Homo sapiens: one gene and its partners. The protein of the gene in region 1 purifies or fractionates together with the protein of each later gene. This does not show direct contact. Each region holds a gene or a part of one and is shown in the gene's direction. Other genes may lie near its edges.

Region 1 (3,500 bases):
CTAGAGAGAGAGATGAGGCCAGGAGTGGGCTCGTGGCTCCCTTCACTCACTAGGACCCAGCTTCTACTGGCATAACAGGGTCTCCTATTGGGCAAATCACTTCCCCCATCCTGCTTAGAGCTGCTGTGACCACTGTAACCCTAAGTAGGACTTGGTGGAACGTAGACATTTGAAAAGCTCTTGTATACGCTAGAGATTTTCAAATGTATGCATAATAGTTGCAAATTTGTTAAAAACAAAAACATTTACAAGTTATAAAAGTAACATGTCATAGATGTAACATAGTTGTAACATAAAGAAGTGTTAGACTCTCCCTACCCCTTTCCTGTCCCACTGCTGACAGTTTCGGGAACACCCCTTTCACTCTTCTCTGCTTGTACAAACACATATATACATCCTTTTCCCTTCTAACCATAATGGGATTTTGCTTTATACTTTATTTTGCAACCTGCTTGTTTTCCTTTAGAATATATCATATGGTGGGCATGGTGGCATGTAATTCCAGCACTTTGGGAGGCCAAGGCAGGAGGATTGCCTGAGGCCAGTCCTGGCAACATAGCAAGACCCTGTTTTTACAAATAATTTAAAAATTAATGGTGCTTGGTGCCTGGCACCTGTAATGCCAGCACTTTGGGAGGTCAAGGTGGGAGGATCGCTTGAGCCCAGGAGTTTGTGACCAGCCTGGTCAACATAAGGAGACCTCATCTCAATAAAAAAGAAAAAAGAAAAAAAAATATAGCTCTCTCTCCATGTCAGTACATATAAGGTGTCATTTCTGTTAATGGCTACTTAACCTTCCATGGTAAGAAGTACTATCAGGGATTCAACTGGTCCTGTTTGATTGAAGAGTCAGCCTATTTCTGATGTTTTGCTATCACAGAGTATTTTAGCAAGTATATATATGATGTAGGTAAAGAGGCAGATAAACACATGCACACTGAGTAAGAGAGAGAGAGAGAGACTGAGATTGCTGCATTCTGTGAGTTTTATTTCTGCGGGTTTAGTTTATCCAATATGGCATTTCTGTGTTAAAAGAGAGAACCATCTAAATCCTTCCTTGAAACTTGTGGGCCTTATGTGTGTTTTCAATCAACAGATACTAGAAGTACAGTTTGGGGGTTGTGAAATGCTTTAACCCCGCATAGGGGTTTTCACACTGGCCTGGACAAGGCCAGGGCTCAGAAGAGAGAGCATTGCAGAAGGAGGAACTGCCCCTGGCCTGCCTTCCTCTCTCTGGGAAGGAAGAGTTGCAGCTACTTTGTAGAGCATTCTTGTTTTCTCCTTTGTCTCCTAACGTGTACTTTGAACCTGGTTTGGAAGCAGTCCCTCCACATCAGGGCCTAGCACTCAGGAGACTGATCTGGCACTCAGGAGCGCCAGAACCCGAACGGTCCAAGTAGGCCCTCTGGGCCACCTCTCTTGTGTTATAGATGGGGAAACCAAGGCCCAGAGAAGGGAAGTATTAGCCCAGGGTCACCCAGCAAGTTGGTGCCACAACGGAGTCCCTGAGAAGCCTACCAACTCCCAAGCTGGCATCAGGGTCATTTATTTGGTATCTGCTGGGTGAGGGGCACAGGGTCAGGCCTTGACTGGAATTGCATCTGCTCTGTGTCTGGGGACAAGTCCGTTACCTCCTCTGGGACTCAGCTTTCCTGTCTGGATAAACCTTTGTCCCAAGGCTGCCGAGAAGGTCCAGCGATCACAGGAAGAATTAAGTGTACATGATGGGGTGGGGGGTGAAAGGAGTTGGGGTGGGCGGCATTAGGGGCAGACTCCCTTGAGGCCCGAGGGCCGCGTGGGGCTGTGCCCAGGTGAGCCCATTCTTCCATTTGCTCCGCAGCTGGTATTCCCTCTCGAGTGGTTTCCACTCAACAAGCCCAGTGTTGGGGACTACTTCCACATGGCCTACAACGTCATCACGCCCTTTCTCTTGCTCAAGGTACTGTCCCAGGGCCCCCACTCTCTCCTGTCATCCCCATTCTTTGCACACCTGGCAGGAAGGTGATGCTAAGCCCTGTGTCCTGACTCAAGCACGCTCCTGCCTGCTGCTGGGGGGTGAAGGCTGTGACAGAGCAGCATGTCCAGGGCCTGGGGCCCGGGGAAGGCGGAGCTGCCGGTGGCCTGGAGGGATGGAAAATATGCCCCAAGAAAGGGCTTTTGATTTGAGCCTCAGCCTGGCGTGCCAGTGGGGGAAGCAGAGAGGTGTTCAGGTAGAAGGACCTAAAGACAAGGCTGTGCTTGGGAAACCGTAAAACATTTGGGGAGGCTGAGGCAGAAGTGACTGGAGGTCCAGGGAGAGGTCAAGGACCCACTGGGAAGAGAGGAAGAAGCCAGGTGGCAGGAGAGGCAGCAGCAGCAGCTGAACTCCATCCTCTGCCCTGGAGAGCCCTGAGATGTCACTGGGAGCACTAGCAGGAACTGCTGGCTTTGCACTTTGCCAAGTAAGGCCTTTAAAACTACTATAGGTTGAGCATCCCTAATCCAAAAATCTGAAATCTGAAATGCTCCAAAGGAGTCTGAAATTTTTTAAGCACTGGCATGATACTATAAGTAGAAAACTCGGCCAGGCGCGGTGGCTGGAGCCTGTAATCCCAGCACTTTGGGAGGCTGAGGTGGGTGGATCACTTGAGGTCAGGAGCCTGGCCAACATGGTGAAACCCCCGTCTCCATTAAAAATAGAAAAAATTGGCCAGGCGCAGTGGCTCATGCGTGTAATCCCAGCACTTTGGGAGGCTGAGGCGGGCGGATCACCTGATGTCAGGAGTTCGAGACCAGCCTGGCCAACATGGTGAAACTCCATCTCTACTAAAAATACAAAAAAAAGTAGCCGGGCATGCTGGCAGGCACCTGTAGTCCCAGCTACTCGGGAGGCTGAGGCCAGAGAATCACTTGAACCCGGGAGGTAGAGGTTGCAGTGAGCCAAGATCACGCCATTGCACTCCGGCCCGGGCAAGACAGTGAGACTTCATCTCAAAAAAAAGAAAAAGAAAAAAATACAAAAAACTTAGGGCCGGCATGGTGGCTTACGCCTGTAAGCCCAGCACTCTGGGAGCCCAAGGCAGGCAGATCACTTGAGGTCAGGAGTTCGAGACCAGCCTGGCCAACATGGCAAAACCTCATCTCCATTAAAAATACAAAAAAGTTAGCCAGGTGCGGTGGTGTGCGCCTGCAGTCCCAGCTACTTGGGAGGCTGAGGCAGGAGAATCACTTGAATCCAGGAGGTAGAGGTTGCAGTGAGCCGAGATTCCACCACCGCACTCCAGCCTGGGCGATGGAGCAACACTCTGTCTCAAAAAAGAAAATTCTACACATATGTACTTAACACAAACTTTGTTTCATGTACAAAATTATTTAAAATGTTATATAAAATTAACTTCAGGCTGTGTATGTAAAGTATATAGGAAATATAAATGAATTTTTCCAGGCATGGTGGCTCACACCTGTAATCTCAATACTTTGGGAGGCTGATACAGGAGGATCACTTGAGGCCAGTAGTTTGA
Region 2 (3,500 bases), on another chromosome or scaffold:
GGAGGAGACGCTGCCCAGGTAGCGGCAGTGATCAGTGACCCTGAAATGTTGCTGATCCTGTGGAGGACTCGGAGGTGAGGCAGATTCACACCCTCTTAGATGCAGAATTCAGCTGCCAAGCAGTTTTTGATGCCTGGTTTTTTTGCTTGTTTTAACTTTTTGGGTTGTTTTAATTTTTTCTATTAGAAATTATATACGTAGGCTGGGAGTGGTGACTGATGCCTGTAATCCCAGCACTTTGGGAGGCCAAGGTGGAGGGATCGCCTGAGGTCAGGAATTCGAGACCAGCCTAGCCAACATGGTGAAACCTTGTCTACTAAAAATACAAAAATTAGCTGGGCATGGTGGTGCACACCTGTAATCCCAGCTACTCAGGAGGTTGAGGCGGGAGAATTGCTTGAACCCGGGAGGCGGAGGTTGTGGTGAGCTGAGATTGCACCACTGTACACACACACAAAAAAAAAAAAGAAAAGAAATTATATATATATGGTTTGGGTTTATTTATTTATTTTATTTTATTTTATTTTATTTTGTGTTTGGAGATGGAGTCTCACTCTGTCGCCCATGCTGGAGTGGTGCAGTGGCATGATCTTGGCTCACTGCAACCTCCATCTCCTGGGTTCAAGTGATTCTCCCACCTCAGCCTCGCAAGTAGCTGGGATTACAGGCACAGGTCAGCATGCCCGACTAATTTTTGTATTTTTAGTAGTAACGGGGTTTCACCATGTTGGCCAGGCTGGCCTCAAACTCCTGACCTCAGGCAATCCGTCCACCTTGGCCTCAGACAAAGTGCTGGGATTACAGGTGTGAGCTACTGCACCCAGCATTTTTTTTTTTTTGAGACAGGGCCTGGCTGGGTTGCTCAGCCTGGAGTGCAGTGTTGTGATCACAACTCACTGCAACATTGACCTCCTGAGCTCAAGTGATCCTCCCACTTCAACCTCCCAAGTAGCTAGTACTATAAGCATGCACCCCCACACCTAGCTTTTATTTTATTTTTTTGTAAGATGGGTCTTGCTATGTTGCCCAGGCTGCTCTAGAACTCCTGGGCTCGAGCGATCCTCCTGCCTTAGCCTCCCAAAGTTCAGAGATTACAGGCATGAACCACTACACTGGTCCATTGTGTGCTTTTTTTTTTTTTTTTGACAGGGTCTTACTCTGTTGCCCAGGCTGGAGTGCAGTGGCGCTGTCTCTGCTTCAAGTGATTCTCCTGGCTCAGTCCCAAGTAGCTGGGACTACAGGTGCCTGTCACCACACCCAGCTAATTTTTGTATCTTTAGTAGAGACAGGGTTTCACCATGTTGAGCAGACTGATCTTGAACTCCTTACCACAAGTGATCTGCCTGCCTCGACCCCCTAAAGTGCTGGGATTACAGGTGTGAGCCGCCGCTCCTGGCCTAGCCATTATGTATTTTTAAAGACGGTCTTACTCTGTCACACAGGCTGGAGTGCAGTGTCATAATCATCACTTGGTGGCACAATCATCACTCAAGCCAGCCTGTCACATCAGTGACTATAGGCATGCATCACTACAGCCAGCTAATTTAACTTTTTTTTTTTTTTTTGCGGAGATATGGGGATGCCTCGCTGTGTTGCCCAGGCTGGTCTTGAACTCCTGGCCTCAGCAATCTTCCCGCCTCAGCTTCCCAAGTAGCTGGAATTACAGTTGCAAGTCACCACACCTAACTTTTTATTTTGAAATAACTTCAGATTTACAGATAAGTTTCCACGCATAATAAAAATAACTTGCAGGCTGAGCACAGTGGCTCACGCCTGTAATCCCAACACTTTGGGAGGCCAAGGCGGGAGGATCACTTGAGGCCAGGAATTCGAGACCAGTGTGGGCAACGTCGGGAGACCTCATTTCTACAAAAAAAAAATTAGCCAAGTATGGTGATGTGCAACTATGGTCCCAGCTACTCAGGAGGCTGAGGTGGGAGGATCACTTGTGCCCAGGAGCAATGAGCTGTGAGCGTGCCACTGCACTTTAGCCTGGGGTAACAGAACAAGATCCTGTCTCAGGGAAAAAAAAAAAAAAGAAACTTTCATAGATCTTCACCCAGATTTCCAAACTGTTAATACTTTGCTGCATGTGTTGGTTTCCACCTCTATTGTATGTGTTTTTTTTTCTCTAAGCCAATATGAGTAAGCTACAGGATATGGCATCCCTTGACCTCTTAATATTTCAGTGTATTTCCTAGAAGCGAATGCATTATCCTATATAGTCACAGTGCCTGTAACCACACCAGGAAGTTAGTATTGCCACCAGGCCTCACACTGTGTGCAGTGATGTTTCACAGGCTCACCCACTGTATATAGTGATATTTCTAGTCCCCTTCAGTCAGGAATGGTCCCTTGCCTTTCTGTCTTTCCTGACCTTGACCCCTCCAGAGCATGCGGCCGCCCCTTAGGCTGTGTGGTATTTGCTGGTGACTAGGCCCAGCATGGGCTTTGTTGGGAGGAGCACCGTAGTGGGACACCTGGTCCTTGCCAGGTGCCCTTTTATCACTGGGTTAAAAAGGTGCCGGTCAGGTTTTTCCATTGTAAAATAATTACTTTGTGCCCAGGTTAAATAGTAATGAGGCTGGGCATGGTGGCTCATGCCTGTAATTCCAGGACTTTGAGAGGCTGAGGTGGGCGGATCACTGGAGCTCAGGAGTGTGAGACCAGCTCAGGCAACATAGCAAAATCCCATCTCTACCAAAAATTTAAAAATAACCAGGTGTGGTGGTGTGCGCCTGTAATCCCAGCTACTTGAGAGGCTGAGGTGGGAGGATTGCTTGCACCCAGGAGGCGGAGGTAGCAGTGAGCCAAGATCATGCCCCTGTACTCCAGCCTGGGCTACAGAGTGAGACCGTATCTCAACCAAAAAAAAAAAAAAAAAAATTAATAGTGCCTGGGCAACATAGCATGACCTTGTTTCTACTAAAAAGAAAAACATCAGCCAGGCGTGGTGGTGTTGGTCCCAGCTACTTGGGAGGCCTAAGTCTAGGAGGTTGAGGTTGCAGTGAGCTGTGATTGCATCATTGCACTCCAGCCTAGGCGATAGGGTACGATCCTGTCTCAAAAAAAAATTGATAACGAGAATTTACCGGGAAGATGTATGGAGACTATGTAATTATCAGTAGTATTAACATCCACTTTTGATTCTCCTATTTTTTCAAATTGATTTTATTTGCAGACAGGGTCTTGTTCTCTTACCCCAGGCTGGAGTGCAGTGGTACGATCTCTGCTCACAGCAACCTCAACCTCCTGGGCTCAAGTGATCCTCCTGTCTCAACCCCCCAAGTATCTGGGACTACAGGGAGGCATCACCACACCTGGCTAATTTTTGTATTTTTTTGTGGAGACAGGGTTTTGCCATGTTGCCCAGGCTGGGAATTTCTTAATTTTTTAGAAACAGGGTCTTGCTCTGTCACCCCAGGGTGGAGTGAAGTTGGTACGATCATTTGTCACTATAGCCTCAACTCGTGGGCCCAGGCCATTCTCCCTCCTCAGCC
Region 3 (4,090 bases), on another chromosome or scaffold:
GAAGATTCATGAAGTTGACAAGGATATACAAGTAGAAAGAACTTTCAAAGATTATGGAGTAATTGTGCTAGTGGGAAGGTAGGTTGAGCTATAATATCAGAAACGTTGGTCCTGGTGTGGTCGTGGTTAGGTAGCCTTCAAATTGGTTGCAAGCAGAGCCTTGGTTCTCCAAGAATGAAAGGTAGGGTCTTGAAGAAGGCAGGGTTTGTAAGGCATCCTGCCTCACCTTTTTCCTGCCCTCCTCCACCAGCGGTATCTGACCTCAGAGGCAGAGGAACACCACCAGCTCTTCGATCTGATTGAAAGCATGCTAGAGTATGAACCAGCTAAGCGGCTGACCTTGGGTGAAGCCCTTCAGCATCCTTTCTTCGCCCGCCTTCGGGCTGAGCCGCCCAACAAGTTGTGGGACTCCAGTCGGGATATCAGTCGGTGACGATCAGGCCCTGGGCCCCCCTGCATCTTTTATAGCAGTGGGTGTCCAGTCCAGGACACTGGTGCTTTTTTATACAAGAGAACGAGCCAGAGTTCACTCCTTCCTCCTGGCTCTCTATATACCTGTGAATATGTGAAATAGTGTAAATATGAAAGAACTTGTACCTATCACTTCAACCCCTGCCTTGTACATAATACTATTCCATCCACACAGTTTCCACCCTCACCTGCCCCCTCATACGGAGTTGGATGGGGGCCGAGTGAGGTAACCAGGTGGCATCTACCCCATGTTTTATAAGGAATTTTGTACAGTCTTTGTGAAATAAAATAACGTGCTTCATTTGACCCCCATCCCTGGAGTTGGAGGTTTGGGAATGCTGGGGTGGAGGGATGAAACTATTGGCAAACTTTCTGAGTTTGGGTATGAAGGGAGTCCTCCTTACCCTCCAAAATGAAGCACAGCCAGGCTACCAGTTTATTTCCCCTGTCCACCTTATCATATGGGAGGGTAGTGATGGGTGGGGCAGCATTTCTTTCAGATTAAAACAGAGAAGTGTTATGAGGTGGCACTTCTCGGATGTGGAATTATGAGAGTTGGGAAAGATCTGACTCCTAGAGTCATTAGGCCGCGGCCCAGTATAGAGCCAGAAACTCAGGTTGAAAACGTGCTCAACCTGGCTCCTAGGGGGGATTGCCACGACCGGTCAGAAGGCTCCCGTCGTCCATCTCGGGAGACTAGGAAGGCCGGATTCCTACGCGAGGCCTGCTGGGAAGTGTAGTTCGTTAGTGGAAGGAAGTCACATGGAAGAGGGGCGGTAGTTGGTTGTGGGCACTGGGTTAGAGGTATCACGTGGGGGCACTTTCGTCTTAGCTTTTGGACAAGACGCAGGCGCAACCCACGGCTGCTGCGGGGATCCTTGTGGCCCTTCCGGTCGGTGGAACCAATCCGTGCACAGAGAAGCGGGGCGAACTGAGGCGAGTGAAGTGGACTCTGAGGGCTACCGCTACCGCCACTGCTGCGGCAGGGGCGTGGAGGGCAGAGGGCCGCGGAGGCCGCAGTTGCAAACATGGCTCAGAGCAGAGACGGCGGAAACCCGTTCGCCGAGCCCAGCGAGCTTGACAACCCCTTTCAGGTGACTTGCGCCAGTCGGCCTCTTTTGGGCGGTCAGGTTGATTCTTCCCGGTTCTGTAGGGTCGGGCTAACTTGTATCCCCATTTGTGACATTTGATCCTGGGAAGAGCCGCCACGTGGGGTGACAGTGACTCCAGACCAGTGAGCACTCTGGGGGGCGGGCCCTGCCCCTTAATGGGCTGGTGCTGGCAGTGTTGGATGATGGATTTGAGGTAAATGTTGTCCCAGTCCTGGGACAACGGCGTGGCCCCGAAGGTGCAGTACTTGGAGCCACAGGCAGTTTGGGAATGGTCCCTGGGAATTCCCCTAGGTGGCACTGGGTGCCAGCTGAGACCCGGGTCTCTGCCCTCAGGACCCAGCTGTGATCCAGCACCGACCCAGCCGGCAGTATGCCACGCTTGACGTCTACAACCCTTTTGAGACCCGGGAGGTGAGCTACTGGAGAGCATAGGAGTTCAAGGAAGGGAAGGGTTTGCCAGTGAGACAAGTTAGCTTGGGTACAGGGGACTTTTCTGCATGCACAGGAAGGAAGAGGCACTGTGATCTTAGTTCCCTGAGAGAGGCTAGTCAGCCATGGGATGCCTCATCCTTCTAGGGCCACCAGGGCCACCAACCCAAATGGTTTGAGCTCTAAAAGTCAGTCCTGGGAAGATCTGGAGGCTGGCAAGGCCTTAACCAATGTTCTGTATGGGAAGGCTTTCTTGAAGAAAATAAAGGTTGGGGCTGGTTGGAGTTTAGGTTAGGTGTGCAGTTTGAAAGCAAGGAATGAGGAGGACTACACCTGTTTGTCCCACTGGATTAGAAGATGGTGAGTTGTAAGAATTTAAGGGGTTTTCATGGTACTTAAAACTTAAAAAAAAAAGCCAAGCATGGTGTGCATGCCTGTAATCCCACTTGGGAGGCTGAGGTGGGAGGATTGCTTGAGCCCAGGAATTTGATGGAGACCATCCTGGGCAACAGCGAGACCCCCATCTCTTGAAACGTTTTAAAAATTGGCTAGGTGTAGTGGCACATGCCTGTAGTCCTTGCTACTTGGGAGGCTGGGATGGAAAGACTGCTTGGGCCCAGGAGTTTGAGGCTTCGATGAGTGATGATTGCACCACTGCACTCCAGCCTGGGTGGCAGAGAGACAACCCCACACTCCATCCCCAGAAGAAAAGAAAAAAAAAAAACACAGTTAAGTGGGGAGATATGGTAAATGAGTGATTTGAGTCCTCACTAAGGAATTGGATATGAGGGATGATAAGGCTGCTACAGGTCATCATAGAGTTCTCTGACAGAAATTCAACAGAAGAACTAGCTTCCTAACAAATGGGGGAAAGGCTGCTTCCTTACATCATGAGTTCTGGGTCTAAAGGTATTCAAGCAGACTCTAGATTCCTGTGTTATGAGGGACTAGATGATCACTAAGGTCTTTTCCTCAACAGCCACCACCAGCCTATGAGCCTCCAGCCCCTGCCCCATTGCCTCCACCCTCAGCTCCCTCCTTGCAGCCCTCGAGAAAGCTCAGCCCCACAGAACCTAAGAACTATGGCTCATACAGCACTCAGGTACAGGAGGTGTGCAGGTGAGGGCTGGGGAGAAGGGCCAGTCCTGGGGCCCAGGGCTCACATCTCCGTCTGCTCACACTGGGCAGGCCTCAGCTGCAGCAGCCACAGCTGAGCTGCTGAAGAAACAGGAGGAGCTCAACCGGAAGGCAGAGGAGTTGGACCGAAGGGAGCGAGAGCTGCAGCATGCTGCCCTGGGGGGCACAGCTAGTAAGTAATAGAGTGGGGAAGAGCATCTGAGAGTTTGGGAGGAGCAAAAACAGGTCTTAAGGGCCTGGGCTCGGCTGGGTGCGGTGGCTCACACCTATAATCCCAGCACTTTGGGAGGCTGAGGTGGGCGGATCACGAGGTCAAGAGATCGAGACCATCCTAGCCAACATGGTGAAACCCTGTATCTACTAAAAATACACACACACAAAAATTAGCTGGGCATGGTGGCGCGCACCTGTAGTCCCAGCTACTCGGGAGGCTGAGGCAGGAGAATCGCTTGAACCCGGGAGGTGGAGGTTGCAGTGAGCCGAGATAGCGCCACTGCACTCCAGCCTGGTGACAGAGTGAGACTCCATCTCAAAAAAAAAAAAAAACACAAACCTGGGCTCTGGAGTCAGACTGCTGAGTTTGAATTTTAGAGATACTGCTTACTAACCATGAGCTTTTAGGGAAGTTACTTAATCTTGAATGCCTCAGTTTCCCTATTTATAAAATGAAAACCACGTTTGCATCCGTTTGACAGGGTTGTTGTGAAGGTTAAACAAAATATATGTGAAGTACTTGGTACAGTGCTTAGATGTTTTAAATAATAATAAACAGTATTAATTTTTCCACTCTCACTTGTCTCCTTGGACCCCAAATTGGAGATAAAAGAGAGGATCCAGGGCTGGGTATGGTGCCTCACGCCTGTAATTCCAACACTTTGGGAGGCCGAGGCAGGCAGGTTGCTTGAGCTCAGGAGTTAGAGACCAACCTGGACAACATAGTG
Region 4 (3,060 bases), about 27 Mb from region 1:
GAGATTGTAGAAGGGAGTAAAGGAGTGGAGGAAAGGAAGTCTATGAGCCACTGGGCTAGAGGCCCTTTCCTTTCTGTGGAAAAGCTCAGTTCTTGCCATCTGAAGACAGAGGTGGCTGACTGCAATAATAATATAAGGAGTCAGAAAGGTACCCTGTCTCCCATTTCATATTGCCTAAGAACCAGCCTTTCCATATTGCCTGACAGTCAAATTGTTAAAGTTGCTTATTTTGTTTAAGGAAGCAATTTTCAAAGTATGTTCACACCCTAAAGGTGTTAATAGAATTCCCAGGGGCCCAAGGATTGGTTAAGTTTAAGACAGATTTGGTGAAACAGTGTTAAATTCTCTTACTCAATTCTCGCAGCCTTTTAATTGTGCTTGTTATTTTTCTCAGAAGGGGATTTAGCATTTAACTCTTCAAGGATTTTTATGTTTTCTTGGGCCATACTTTAGGAATAGTTGGCTTAATGCAGCACTTCGAAGAGGACGACATTTTGGGTGGGATTTCAGAAAGCCCCACCAAACTGATTTAAATCAATAAGGAACTAGTTAGGCTCACGCAACAAGAATGTTTGGCATAGATTGTCCAGGCTGGTACAGTACCTAACTGATGTCCAGGAACCAGGCTTATTCTGTGTTCCTGCCCTGGCATCCATAGCTCATATTACTCACCTCATGGCTCCAGGGTGGCTGCAGTGCCACCAGACAGAATGAGGTAAGAAGAATGAGGAAGGGCAAAATGCAAAGGACTCTCCCTTAGTCTTTGTCTTCTTATCCAGTCACCTAGATAAGTTCTGCTTACATCATTGCCTAGATGAGAAGATAAAGGTTTCAGCCTTTTAGCTGTTACTTAGTCACATGATGGTAAAGATGGGGATACATTCTGAGATATGCAATGTTAGGCAATTTTGTAGTTGTAGGAACATCATAGAATGTACCTACATGAACCTAGATGGTATAGCCTACTACACACCTAGGCTATGTGGTGTGGCCTATTGTTCCTAGACTACAAACCCGTGCAGCAAGTTACTGTTCTGACTACTATATGCAGTTGTAACATAATGGTAAGTATTTGTGTATCTAAACATATCTGTGGCTGGGCATGGTGGCTCACGCCTATAATCTCGGCACTTTGGGAGGTGGCAGAGGGAGAATTGCTTGAGCCCAGGAGTTGAAGGCCTGCCTGGGCAACACAGTGAGACCTCATTCCTACAAAAAAATTTTGAAAAATTAGCCAAGTGGCTGGGCGCAGTGGCTCACACTTGTAATCTCAGCACTTTGGGAGGCGGAGGCGGGCAGATCATGAGGTCAGGAGTTCGAGACCAGCCTGGCCAACATGGCGAAACCCCATCTCTACTAAAAATACAAAAATTAGCTGGGTGTGGTGTCACATCCCTGTAATCCCAGCTACTCGGGAGGCCGAGGCAGGGGAATCGCTTGAACTGGGGAGGCAGAGGTTGCAGTGAGCCGAGATCGTGCCATTGCACTCCAGCCTGGGCAACAAGAGTGAAACTCCGCCTCAGGAAAAAAAAAAAAAAAAGGCATGGTTGCACACACCTGTAGTGTAGTACCAGTTCCTTGGGGGAGGCTGAGGTGAGAGGATCACTTGAGCTTCGGAGGTGAGGCTGCAGTGAGCCACATTCGCAACCCAGCACTCCAGCTTGGGCAACAGAGCGAGACCCTGTCTCAAAAAAAAAACCCAAAAACAAATACTTACATCTAAACATGGAAAAGGTACAGTAAAAATATGGTATTGTAATCTTTTTTAACAAATTTTTTGGCCGGGCGCAGTGGCTCATGCCTGTAATCCCAGCACTTTGGGAGGCCGAGGTGAGCGGATCACGAGGTCAGGAGATCGAGACCATCCTGTCTAACATGCTGAAACCCCATCTCTACTAAAAATACAAAAAATTAGCCTAGCCGGGCACGGTGGCAGGCGCCTGTAATCCTAGCTACGCAGGAGGCTGAGGCAGGAGAACGGCGTGAACCCGGGAGGCAGAGCTTGCAGTGAGCTGAGATCGTGCCACTGCCCTCCAGCCTGGGCAACAGAGTGAGACTCCGTCTCAAAAAAAAAAAAAAAAAAGGAAAAAAAATTTAACTTTTAGGTTCAGGGCTACATATGCAGGTTAGTTATGTAGGTAAACTCTTGTCATGGGGGTTTGATGTACAGATTATTTCGCCACCCATGTACTAAGCCTAGTACCCAGTAGTTATTTTTTCTGTTTCTCTCTCACCTCCTACTCCACCCTCTGGTAGGCCCCAGTGTCTGTGGTTCCCCTTTTTGTGTCTATGTGTTCTCATCAAAATACAGTATTATAATCTTATAGCACCACCATTATATATGCAGTCGGTCATTAACCAAAACATTATTATGCAGTGCATGACTGTATTTGAGGGCATCAAAGGAAAAGGAGGATGGTGATAGCTTTATTTTTAATCTTAGTAAAGAGTCCCTCTGATTCCCAAGGCCCTTGTAATTCCTGGCTCTTGGTCTTCCAGGTGCTACGCATGATGGTCGGAGTAAATATCTCAGATGAGCAGCTGGGCAGCATCGCAGACAGGACCATTCAGGAGGCTGATCAGGATGGGGACAGTGCCATATCTTTCACAGAATTTGTTAAGGTTGGTCACTTACTTCTTGTTTGAAAAAGTTACGTTTTAGTGGCTGGGCGCGGTGGCTTACGCCTGTAATCCCAGCACTTTAGGAGGCCAAGGTGGGCGGATCACGAGGTCAGGAGTTCAAGACCAGCCTGGCTAACATGGTGAAACCTCATCTGTACTAAAAATACAAAAATTAGCCAGGCGTGGTGGCGCGTGCCTGTAATCCCAGCTACTTGGGAGGCTGAGGCAGGAGAATCGCTTGAACCCAGGAGGCCAAGGTTGCAGTGAGCCGAGACCACACCACTGCACTCCAGCCTGGCAACAGAGTGAGACTCTGCCTCCAAAAAAAAAAAAAAAAGTTACGTTTTACTGCACAGGAGGAAGGGGGGAAAACATTACTCAGATAAGAGCTTGGGAGTGTTGTAATCTTCATAACCTTTGTAACTGTTACTGGTTTTC
Region 5 (3,500 bases), on another chromosome or scaffold:
CTCCATACCAGTGGCAGCCCAATCTGGCAGGGGAGCACGAGTGCCTACAGGAAGGACTGGATCTTGAGTCTCTGAGTTGGCTTTTCCACCTTCTTTGTTGCTGTCCATCCTGGGCTCTAGAGCTGCCTGCCTTGGTTCCCACACAGCTGGTGTTGTTCCCTGCACCCCCTCACTCCCTTCTCTTCCCTGTCAGGACAACACTCGCATCTCCTCAGCCGGGTGCCTAGGGGAACTGTGTGCCTTTTTGACTGAAGAGGAGCTTAGTGCCGTTCTACAGCAGTGCTTGCTGGGTAAGTACACTGGAGAGTTCCCCTTCAGGGACCTGGGCCTCTCAGCCCTAGCGAAGAGTCGACGGGCATCTCCCTCCCTCCCTCAGAGGATCTTTTAGCAACTGGACTGTCCTTTCCTTGGGAATCCAGCAGTTAAAGCAAAATCCAGGCCAGGGGTGGTGGCACTCACCTGTAGTCCCAGCTACTCAGGAGGCTGAGGTGGGAGGATCAGTTGAGCCCAAGAGTTGAAGGTTGCAGTGAGCCTTGATCACGCCCCTGCACTCTAGCCTGGGCGACAGAGCGAGGCCCTGTCTCTAAAACAAACAAACAATACTGAATTTGCAGTGGTCCCGTAGCCCTGAGTGTCTCTGCTCAAAGAACACAGCTGTAAGCCCGGAGTGGTTCATGAGCAGGCTTTCCTTACTTTCCTTAATGTGCCACTTTGGGGAGCTTCTGCCAAGATAGCAGGGAGGTCCATGTGAATGTGGCCTGGAGTTTTCCTTGTGCTCTGGGTCAGCACACTGGTCTCCAGCGGGGTGGGCCCATGGGCCTCATGGGTGCTGGGGACATGCTGTAAAATACCGGTTGATCCCAGTCGTGTCCTTCCACCCAGCGGACGTGTCCGGCATTGACTGGATGGTTCGGCACGGGCGGAGCCTGGCACTTTCCGTGGCTGTGAATGTGGCTCCTGGCAGACTTTGTGCCGGCAGATATAGCAGTGATGTTCAGGAAATGATCCTGAGCAGTGCCACGGCGGACAGGGTAAGGCATTCGGGCCATATCCCATAGGCATAGGCCACATCCCATAGGCAGCACCTTGTGGACACAGCGCGGGTGGACCCCAGACTGGGGCTTAAGAAGCTTGGGTCTAATTTTACCTTTGTCAGTAACTTGCTGTGCCCTTGGACCAGCACTTGATCCCTTTGGGCCCCAGTTTCATCATCTAAACAAGGAATTTGGGTTGAAGAATCTAGATGCCCCTTCTGGGTCAGGTCTTGGATCCCTGTTCCTGGGAACCAGTGACTGTACTCATCTGCCTCAGCCGGGGCAGCCTGCCTGAGAGCTGTCATGGTGTAAGGGGTGATGTGGTGGTGATGTAGTGGAGGGTCCTGGAGATTACTAGGAACTGGGGTTTTCCTGGCTCTGGGGAAGGGGTGGGGGGCCTCCCGTCTAGCGCTGTCTGTTCTCCACAGATCCCCATTGCGGTGAGCGGGGTCCGGGGCATGGGCTTTCTCATGAGACACCACATCGAGACAGGCGGAGGGCAGTTGCCGGCCAAACTTTCCAGCCTGTTCGTTAAGGTGAGTGGGGGCCAAGCATGTGTTTAAGCCCTAACACCTGGCTTGTGAGGAGGTCCTAGGATCAGAGACCACCAGCAGTGCGCCCTCAACTAGTTGTGTGCTAGTTCTCCGTGGACGGCCTCCAGGAGATCGCTGAACACTTAGGGATGGAATGTAGGGGGTTTCTGTGTGTGCTTTACACTGCAATAAAGCCTAACTTTTTGTCAGATTCTCAAATTGACCCGTGACTCTGAATCAAGTTAGGAATCGCTATTTTAGGCATTCTTTCTAGGCACCGTAGTTTTGTAAAATTAGATACAGACCTGGGTTCCCATCTTAATACCTCTCTTTTCCCTCCTTCCTCTTCTAGTTGGCCCAGCACTTCTTGGTGTGGTTACTGTGCTATGTGCCAGGCCCTAGTTAGGAAAGCCAAGGAATGTGCCAGCAGGGCTCCTGTGGCCCGTGTGATATGGCGTGCTTCTGAAGCATTACTGTGCACAGAAGTCAGAGCCAGGGTGTATTTTAGTGAGATGGGGCCATGCCTGGTACTCTAACCAGCTCTCAGCAACAGTGTCAGTGGTGCTGTGCATGGACCTTGCCTTGAGTAATGAGGTTCCCAAGAGTGACTGCCTCCCCCCGCAGCACCGGGAACCCACGGAGTTTCTGAGGGGCCTGATTCGATTGAGCCTCGTCTGTGATGACATCAGCCTGCACCCGCTTGTTCACTTGGCATTATCCTGAAGGTGTAGAGATGAACAAGGCAGACAGGATCCCTGGAGCCCATGGGGAGGACCCTGATATAGATAAGATTGGCAGGGGGCACCTCTAAAGGATGACATGGGAGCTGAGACCTGCAGGATGGGAAGGAACTAACCTAGAGAGGATCCGGGGCAAGCACGGCCCAAGCTGTGGGACCAGCCAGGGCAGAGGCCCGAGGCCCTGGGATGTTGGAGGAAGTAAAAACGCATGCGGGCTGAGAGTAGTGAGCAAGGGGAGAGTGGCATGAGATGAGGGTGCAGGAAACCAGGGTCGAGTCATGCTGGGACCCTCCCACAGGAGCAGGGGGGGTCAGTGTTCATGCTGTAGGGAGAGTGTCGAGGCTGGGCATTTGGGCTGCTTCAAGGAATAGATGACATGCCTATCCAAAAGCCTGTTTGTGGTTCTTTTTACAGTGTCTGCAGAACCCATCCAGCGACATCAGGCTGGTGGCTGAGAAGATGATCTGGTGGGCAAATAAGGACCCACTGCCTCCCCTGGACCCCCAGGCCATCAAGCCCATCCTGAAGGCTCTTCTTGACAACACCAAGGATAAGAACACCGTGGTCAGGGCCTACAGCGACCAGGCAATTGTCAACCTCCTCAAGATGCGGCAGGGTGAAGAGGTGTTTCAGGTGGGAGCCTGGGGGGCCTCACCAGGATGTGCTGTGAGCATTTGTCTTTCAGCTCTTCTTCAGCATGGAAATATTTAAACCACAGGCTCTTCTCTGCCACCACGGATGTGCTAGCTTTCAGGAGCAGATTAAGATTTGGGTGACTGGGGCCGGGCGCGGTGGCTCGCGCCTGTAATCCCAGCACTTTGGGAGGCTGAGGCGGGCAGATCACCAAGTCAGGAGATGAAGGCTAACACGGTGAAACCCCGTCTCTACTAAAAATACAAAAAAATTAGCCAGGCGTGGTGGGCGGCTTTGTCCCAGCTACTCAGGAGGCTGAGGCAGGAGAATGGCGTGAACCCAGGAGACGGAGGTTGCAGTGAGCTGAGATCATGCCACTGCACTCCAGCCTGGGCGACAGAGTGAGACTCCGTCTCAAAAAAAAAAAAAAAAAAAAAAGATTTGGGTGACTGGCCCAGTACCTGAAAACATACATTCCCATGGTTTTCAGACTTCTTTCCGAGCAGGGCCCTTTCTTCAAATAAAATCTCACATGACACCCAAACAGACATAGCAGATCC
Region 6 (3,500 bases), on another chromosome or scaffold:
GATAAAATAAATAATTTAAACCTGCTGTTAGAAAAGTAACAACTGAATAAATAATGCAATAATTATACAGCTGGATTATTTTGTATAATTCACTTTCCTTAGGTTTTGCTTAAACAACTTGGTACAAGTCTATTCCAAAAGGTACACATGACTCATACAGAGTAGACATTTGTCACATATTTTATTCGGCTCATTAATTAGCAAGGGAATCTGTATTTGAGGAAGTGTTCAATATTAGAATATTAGAATAGGGATTGCTAGGTTAGATTACAAAACTAATGTCTTACAGGGAAACCTCATATAACATGAGCATTTATTTAGTAACACAGTGTTACATTTTCCTAGAATGGGCTTGTTAAATAATGCTTCTGTATGATATTGAAAGGGTGTAGTTATCTTGGCCTTTTTGTCAGGTTTTAGATAATTATTTTTAACATCGGAAATTGTTTTATAATCAGTTAAGCCCTGTGAATTTTTATCTTGCCAATTTTAAGCTCATGATGATTTTTTAGATACAGGTTCTCCCTCCCCCGCAAGCTCCTTGTGAAGTCCAAACCCACATTTAGAATTGACAGAACTGGGGTGTTCCAACTTTCAAAGTGGAAAGCTTCTAGGTTTGTCTTAGGTTTCTCCAGGATATTAAGGTGTTTGAGCTACTTAAGTTCTTATTTTTTGGAACCAAAAGGTTGGATGAATTGGCTAAAAGTCAGTTTTGTCATACTGGTTGTTTCAGGAAGAGAAAGGGAATTTTCTTATTTACGATTTTGTGTCTCACTTAGCCTGAAAGCTTTAATTCCTCAGAATAGTCTTTATGTCTGTGAAAGTAAGCCATGTGTAAAGCCATGTGTAAAATTGTAATTTTTAAAATTTCAGTTTCCCAGTTCACTATAATTTTTTTTTGTTCTTTTCTCCCTTGAATGGCTTGGCTTAAAATGTTTTCTTATAATAAAGAAAAAGCCTGCCTGTTCTGAGTGAAGCTCTACCTCACAACAGGAAGCTGGTGCTAATTGGTATTCTGCAGGAGGCTTCTTGCAGTGGTATTGCATAACTGCCCTTGACTTAGGAAGATTTTCATCCTGCATATCCTAAATGGTTGACTTGCTCACAGTCAAAAATGTCTAAGTACATTTAGATTTAGCTAATGTAGATTCAGATTCTGAATGTCTTTTAGAATATTTTGGGCTTTGGTATAGACTCAAAGAATTTCACATTTTTGGCTGGGCACAGTGGTTCACGCCTGTTATTTCAGCACTTTGGGAGGCCGAGGCGGGCGGATCACCTGAGGTCAGGAGTTCGAGACCAGCCTGACTAACATGGTGAAACCTCGTCTCTACTAATATTACAAAAATTAGCTGGGCATGTTGGCAGGCGCCTATAATTTCTTTGGGAGGCTGAGGCAGGAGAATCACTTGAACCCGGGAGGCGGAGGTTGCAGTGAGCCGAGTCGTGCCATTGCAGTCCACCCAGCCTAGGCGACAGAGTGAAACTCCACCTCAAAAAAAAAAAAAAGTTATTTTAAAATAAAGATTAACTAATTTCCTTATTGAATGTGAGATGAATTGCTCTGAAAAGATGTGTTTTTAAAACACAACATAGCTTTGTTGTTGCTGTTATTACGGAGTTTTGCTCTGTCGCCCAGGCTAGAGTGCAGTGGCGCAATCTCAGCCCACTGCAACCTCTGCCTCCCGGGTTCAAGCACTTCTCTCCCTCAACCTCCTGAGTAGCTGGGATTACAGGTGCCCACCACCACGCCCGGCTAATTTGTTATATTTTTAGTAGAGACGGGTTTCACCATCTTTGCCAGGCTGATCTTGAGCTCCTGTCCTCATGATCTACTCACCTTGGCCTCTCAGTGCTGGGATTATAGGCGTGAGCCACCGTGCCCAGCTCAACGTGGCCTGTTTAACTTGAGTTTTACATTTTTTAAATTCCCCTTAGAGAATGATTTGATCAGATTATTAATTGCTCATATTTCAGAGAAAGCACGAGAAAATATAGTTTTGACATCACTTTCTGTAATTTTTTCTTTTTAGAGGAGGTTTTACAAGTTTTCATTTGCAATGAAAACACAAGCCTAAATCTTACTTTTCCAAACTGGGCTTCTGAATTATAATTTGTGAATGCAAATCAAGCAGTGGAAAAATTATCTTTAAGAAAATAGCTTATGTCGCTTTAAAAAATAAAATTAATCCTTTCCTAAGCATGCTTCCATCTGTATTGTCTAGGGAACATCAATTCATTCAGCTCTGCGGGCTCCTTACTGTATACATATAGTTATGCAGCTTCATAGAACATGAGCTATTGCCACAATAAAAATAAGTGGGAAGGAGCAGAGAAGCAGTTTGTCTTATTTTACTCGGGAAATGTTTATGCAACTCTGAAATGTGAGTTTATTCTTCCCAAGCTTTTGTGCTTAGCTCTAAGGCAGGACTACCTAATACCACTCTCACAGCCAGCCATTTGAAATTTGGGATTCTGAGCAATCTAAAGAGTAACTTGTCTCTGGAACTGACCTTTTGCTGACCGGGAGTCCTCATAACTTGGATTTTGTGTGGGTTGTTGTGTCTTTGGTGCCACTGCTGCTCATTCATTCAGCACCTCAGTGATGCTGTTTTTCATACTGTTCGATTGGTCGGGGGTGTGATGGGCGAAGCAGTCTAATATAATTAAGCTAGTTAGGGTAAGGGACAGTACTGCTGATGCTGAGTGAGCCTCAGTGAGTTTTATTAAAGTTGTTTTCGTAAATGAAAGAGGTTGTTTGCCTTTGTCCTAAGCTAACAAAGGTAGTTTATTTGTGTAGCATTTTTTAAAAATCCCTTTTAAATACTCTGATGCGCTCTCCCCCTACAGATGTTCATTCTGGACAGAGTGGAAGGTGATACTTGTTCCCTTAATGAGTTTACCATAACTGGATCAACTTATGCACCTATTGGAGAAGTGTGAGTAACCCTCCTCCTCATTTAAAGGATCTGGTGTGGCAGTTTAGTATTTGTATTGATTTGCAGCATGTCTACAAAGTTAAGACAGCTTTCTGAATGTGGCTCAAGTCAACACTTATTACTAAAGTAGTAAATGTTTTTAAAACAAAAACTTTGAAAGATGAACCAAAGGTTATAATCCAGTCATCTTTTTGCATCTTCTGGGCTCCAAACTTTCAAGAGGGATTTGTGTTTGTTATTCACTGTAGCCAGTGGTGGAAGAATTGAATTAAGAATTTCTGGTCTTTTTACTGATTGATTTCTGATACCAGAGATGCATTCTCTCTTTTGTTTTTGTCTAATATTGGCTCTGGCATCAAATTGTTTGGAATTTTTTCCAGTATGTTGTCCCAGAAATTCTGTTTTCATTATTAAACAATTGCGGGGGGGCAGGGGGCGGGAGGAATCAATAGTGGCGACCATACCCTGCTCTAAGAGTGTTTTCTCTTTGGGCAGGCATAAAGATGATAAACCAGTGAATTGTCACCAGTATGATGGTCTGGTAGAATTAGCAACAATTTG
Region 7 (3,500 bases), on another chromosome or scaffold:
GGCAACAAGGCGAAACTCCATCTCAAAAAAAAAGCAAAAATCAGCTGGGCGTCATGGCGCACACCTGTAGTCCCAGCTACTCGGAGGCTGAGGCAGGAGAACTGCTTGAACCAAGCATGGTGCCACTGAGCTCCTGCCTGGGTGACACATTTCTCCTCCTTTACCACCCCCGACCCCCAGAGTTTCTGCGGCTGACAGTGTATGCTTCCGGAGCTGCTTCTGTTACAAATATATCGCTGGCCTATTTATTTAAAAGATCATAATGTACAACTTGTTCTCCACCTTTTTTTTAAAGCCTAAAATGGTTTTGCCATGTTCCCAGGCAGTACGCAGAGGCTGCCCTCTTTAGCTGCTAAGAAGACTTCCCTGTGTCGGCAGGAACAAGTGTGCTCACCGCACCCCCGCCCCCCCATAGAACCCTGTGGAGGGCATTTGGGGTTTCCCAGCTTTGTGCAAATGGGAAAAGGGTATGTGGTTTTTTGCTTTTTGTTTTTGATTTTGTTTTGAGACAGAGTCTGTGTCTGTTGCCCAGGCTCGTTGCTCACTGCAACCTCTGCTTCCTGGGTTTAAACGATTCTCCTGCCTCAACCTCCGGAGCTTAGATTACAGGCATGTGCCTCAGCCTCCCAATTTGCTGGGATTACAGGCATGAGCCATCGCACCCGGCGGGGTGTGGATTCTAATGTAATAGCTAATGTGCCTTCCAAAGAGGCTGTACCAAGTCACGCGTTCCTGGATTTATTTTGTGGTAATAGGGCTTTAAAAAGTATTTTTTAAATTTATTTTTATTTTATTTTATCTTTGAGATGGAGTTTTGCTCTTACCCAGGCTGGAGTACAATGGCACGATCTTGGCTCACTACAACCTCCGCATCCCGGGTTCAAGCGACTCTCCTGCCTCAGCCTCCCGAGTAGCTGGGACTACAGGTGCCCACCATGCCCAGCTAATTTTTTGTATTTTTAGCAGAGACGGGGCTTCACCATGTTGGCCAGGCTTGTCTTGAACTCCTGACCTCAGGTGATCCACCCGCCTCTGCCTCCCAAAGTGCTGGGATTACAGGCTTGAGCCACCACACCTGGCCTAAAATAGCTTTCCAAGCAGTCCTTTTGGTCCCAGTAGGTAAAGCTTCAAGGCAGGCCCTAGAGTGCCAACCCTCTCTGACCCAGAGGTGAGGGTTAATGTTAATAGGGTCCCTTTCAGCGAAAGTTAGGGCCACACTTCTCATGTCCCTAAGCCATTTGTACTTGTTTTTTTTCTCTGACCCACCTGTGTGTGTGGTGAGTATGTGTGTATGTGTTGCTTTTTTTTTTGGAAAGTGATTTTCAGTAACAGAAAGGGATGTACTCTCTGCAAGAGTGAATCTATTCTTGCCCCTGTGTGTAAGGCAAGAAAGAGAAGCTGTGTTCTCTGAACAGGCAGACCCTGCTGAGAGAGGGAGGTGTGTTGGGGTTCAATCATTCTGGTGGGAAAGATATTAGAGATAGTTATAGAAATAGACACAAATCTTGGAAGGCCGAGAAGTTGGCATAACTTCGGTAATTAGCTCTGGCTGAAGGCGGCCTGATCCCTTTACCTTTAATTAAACAAATAAAAATAGTGATAAAAGAAAGGCAGCGTAGTTTACCTAGCTAGCTTGTTTACTCGCATAATCTTAAGACCGTGGGTGTTTAAGTGCTTTTTACTTGGGAAGTCCACAATGTCTGTTACATTCTAATGGTGTTGACTCAAGCTTTTGTTAGTTAATCATACTGAATAAATGCACGTCTGACTAGCTGATCAGGGCCAAGTAGCAACTGTTTACAGGACTCAGCAGGGAGCCTATAAGCGGCTGGGACCCTCAGCTGGACTGGCAGAGCAGAATATCTGTGTGTCTGTACTTTATTCATCTGTCACCGGGTCAGGGGTCTGCAAGGAGTGCTGTCGCAGAGGTGGGCTTTGCTGAGGCTGGTAGAACTCCAAGCTGATTCTCAGGTCATTCTGACTTCAGCTCGGAGAAGGGCAGTGGATGTCCCGGGAAGGGAGACCCTGCCCTTATAGGGGGGCTTCTGACAGGTGCAGGGGGCAGCCTGGAGCCCGGACCAGTGGGCAGGATGGGCGCTCCAGGGTGTGAAGGAGAGGCCGGGCGTTTGATCTGTGGACATTGCTCCTGGAGCAGTGAAAAGCCATAGAAAGTGATTTATTTTACTTATTTATTATTTATTTATTTATTTATTTTGAGGTGGAGTTTCGCTCTTTTTGTCCAGGCTGGAGTGCAATGGCACGATCTCGGCTCACTGCAACCTCTGCCTCCTGGGTTCAAGCGACTGTCCTGCCTCAGCCTCCCGAGTAGCTGGGATTACAGGCATGCACCACCATGCCTGGCTGATTTTGTATTTTTTAGTAGAGACAGGGTTTCTCCACGTTGGCCAGGCTGGTCTCGAACTCCTGACCTCAGGTGATCCGCCCACCTCGGCCTCCCAAAGTGCTGGGATTACAGGCGTGAGTCAGCCTACTCGGCTGATATATATATATATATATATATTTTTAAATGATCACACATAAGGTTGGGTTCTGGAATTTTCTGCTTAGGAAGGGAAAGGGCACCTTTTACCCCCTTATTCCTTGAGCCTGATCCTACAGAAGGTACAGTGGCTTTCGGGTCTGGATCCTCAGCCCTCGGGCCTCTGAGGCTGCCTTGGGAGAGGGTATAGATTTGAGAACAAGGTTCTCAGTTTTGCTGGCTGTCTTTTCAGTCGCCCAGGCACGTCCCACAGAAGGTTTCTTTTTGTGAAATAATCGTGTGAAATGGGTTGGCCTCGGTGCTTAGAACCATCCCACTGACGGTGAGTGAAAAAAATCCCTTGCTTGTCAGTCTGGGTAGGAGATGAGGTCCTTTCACGCGTGTCTTCGTGTTGGTGCGCTTTTCACTGGTCATAAAGGTGAGAGGAACCAGCTCCATGTGTCTCTTTCTGGATGGCCATATGGAACTTGGCATGACAGTAGGGTTGTGTGGTTATTTATTGCTTAACGAAGACTTGGCAGCGTGTACTGGAAATTCAAGCGATGCTGGGTTTTATCAGAAGGCGCAAAGGCTGGAGCTGAGATTCTGGCTGGGCCTGGATTTGGTTTGGGCAGTTTATCTGACCTCCCTGGGCCCCAGCTGGCTCTGCATAGCGAGTAGGGTAGCATCCACTCAAAGTCCCGGTCCACTGTGGCCCGGCACTGATCCAGGCGAGTTCTCAGTAAGTGGGAACTCACAGGTTCAGAAGATGCTGTGGGCCTCAGGGGCTTCCACCTCCAGGGAGGTGCTCTCAGAAGAAGGGCCCGATGGGCTCACTGCATCGTGGAGAAGATACCCTGGCTCAGTCTCAGTCACTTCTCCAAGCGCATAGGTGTTCGGGAAGTGGCCTGCAGACAGCTCCTCCATGCCTTGAAAGCAGAAGTAGCCCCCTCCTGTTTCCCTGTCCCAGTTGGGTGAAGCATGGGGGGCTGCTGAGACAGTCCCAGGCGTGCCGTCACGC

Evidence for each region.
Region 2: the proteins of CLN6 (region 1) and SMPD4 purify together in Homo sapiens (co-immunoprecipitation; one large-scale study listed by IntAct). This does not show direct contact.
Region 3: the proteins of CLN6 (region 1) and SCAMP3 purify together in Homo sapiens (co-immunoprecipitation; one large-scale study listed by IntAct). This does not show direct contact.
Region 4: the proteins of CLN6 (region 1) and CHP1 purify together in Homo sapiens (co-immunoprecipitation; one large-scale study listed by IntAct). This does not show direct contact.
Region 5: the proteins of CLN6 (region 1) and GCN1 purify together in Homo sapiens (co-immunoprecipitation; one large-scale study listed by IntAct). This does not show direct contact.
Region 6: the proteins of CLN6 (region 1) and ATP2A2 purify together in Homo sapiens (co-immunoprecipitation; one large-scale study listed by IntAct). This does not show direct contact.
Region 7: the proteins of CLN6 (region 1) and SLC7A5 purify together in Homo sapiens (co-immunoprecipitation; one large-scale study listed by IntAct). This does not show direct contact.

The regions. Positions count from the first base shown.
Region 1 is NC_000015.10:68,212,729-68,216,228, reverse strand, and holds part of CLN6 (ceroid-lipofuscinosis neuronal protein 6), read left to right. Parts: intron 1-1,840; coding exon 1,841-1,939; intron 1,940-3,500.
Region 2 is NC_000002.12:130,168,103-130,171,602, reverse strand, and holds part of SMPD4 (sphingomyelin phosphodiesterase 4), read left to right. Parts: intron 1-3,500. UniProt on the Homo sapiens protein: Catalyzes the hydrolysis of membrane sphingomyelin to form phosphorylcholine and ceramide. It has a relevant role in the homeostasis of membrane sphingolipids, thereby influencing membrane integrity, and endoplasmic reticulum organization and function.
Region 3 is NC_000001.11:155,259,561-155,263,650, reverse strand, and holds the start of SCAMP3 (secretory carrier-associated membrane protein 3), read left to right. Parts: upstream 1-1,290; 5' UTR 1,291-1,499; coding exon 1,500-1,565; intron 1,566-1,916; coding exon 1,917-1,994; intron 1,995-2,991; coding exon 2,992-3,114; intron 3,115-3,200; coding exon 3,201-3,321; intron 3,322-4,090. Other genes in the region: dual specificity protein kinase CLK2, read left to right, coding at 251-433. UniProt on the Homo sapiens protein: Functions in post-Golgi recycling pathways. Acts as a recycling carrier to the cell surface.
Region 4 is NC_000015.10:41,276,268-41,279,327, forward strand, and holds part of CHP1 (calcineurin B homologous protein 1), read left to right. Parts: intron 1-2,499; coding exon 2,500-2,622; intron 2,623-3,060. UniProt on the Homo sapiens protein: Calcium-binding protein involved in different processes such as regulation of vesicular trafficking, plasma membrane Na(+)/H(+) exchanger and gene transcription. Involved in the constitutive exocytic membrane traffic.
Region 5 is NC_000012.12:120,128,716-120,132,215, reverse strand, and holds part of GCN1 (stalled ribosome sensor GCN1), read left to right. Parts: intron 1-193; coding exon 194-290; intron 291-882; coding exon 883-1,031; intron 1,032-1,462; coding exon 1,463-1,570; intron 1,571-2,721; coding exon 2,722-2,940; intron 2,941-3,500. UniProt on the Homo sapiens protein: Ribosome collision sensor that plays a key role in the RNF14-RNF25 translation quality control pathway, a pathway that takes place when a ribosome has stalled during translation, and which promotes ubiquitination and degradation of translation factors on stalled ribosomes.
Region 6 is NC_000012.12:110,329,747-110,333,246, forward strand, and holds part of ATP2A2 (sarcoplasmic/endoplasmic reticulum calcium ATPase 2), read left to right. Parts: intron 1-2,850; coding exon 2,851-2,939; intron 2,940-3,434; coding exon 3,435-3,500.
Region 7 is NC_000016.10:87,863,008-87,866,507, reverse strand, and holds part of SLC7A5 (large neutral amino acids transporter small subunit 1), read left to right. Parts: intron 1-3,500. UniProt on the Homo sapiens protein: The heterodimer with SLC3A2 functions as a sodium-independent, high-affinity transporter that mediates uptake of large neutral amino acids such as phenylalanine, tyrosine, leucine, histidine, methionine, tryptophan, valine, isoleucine and alanine.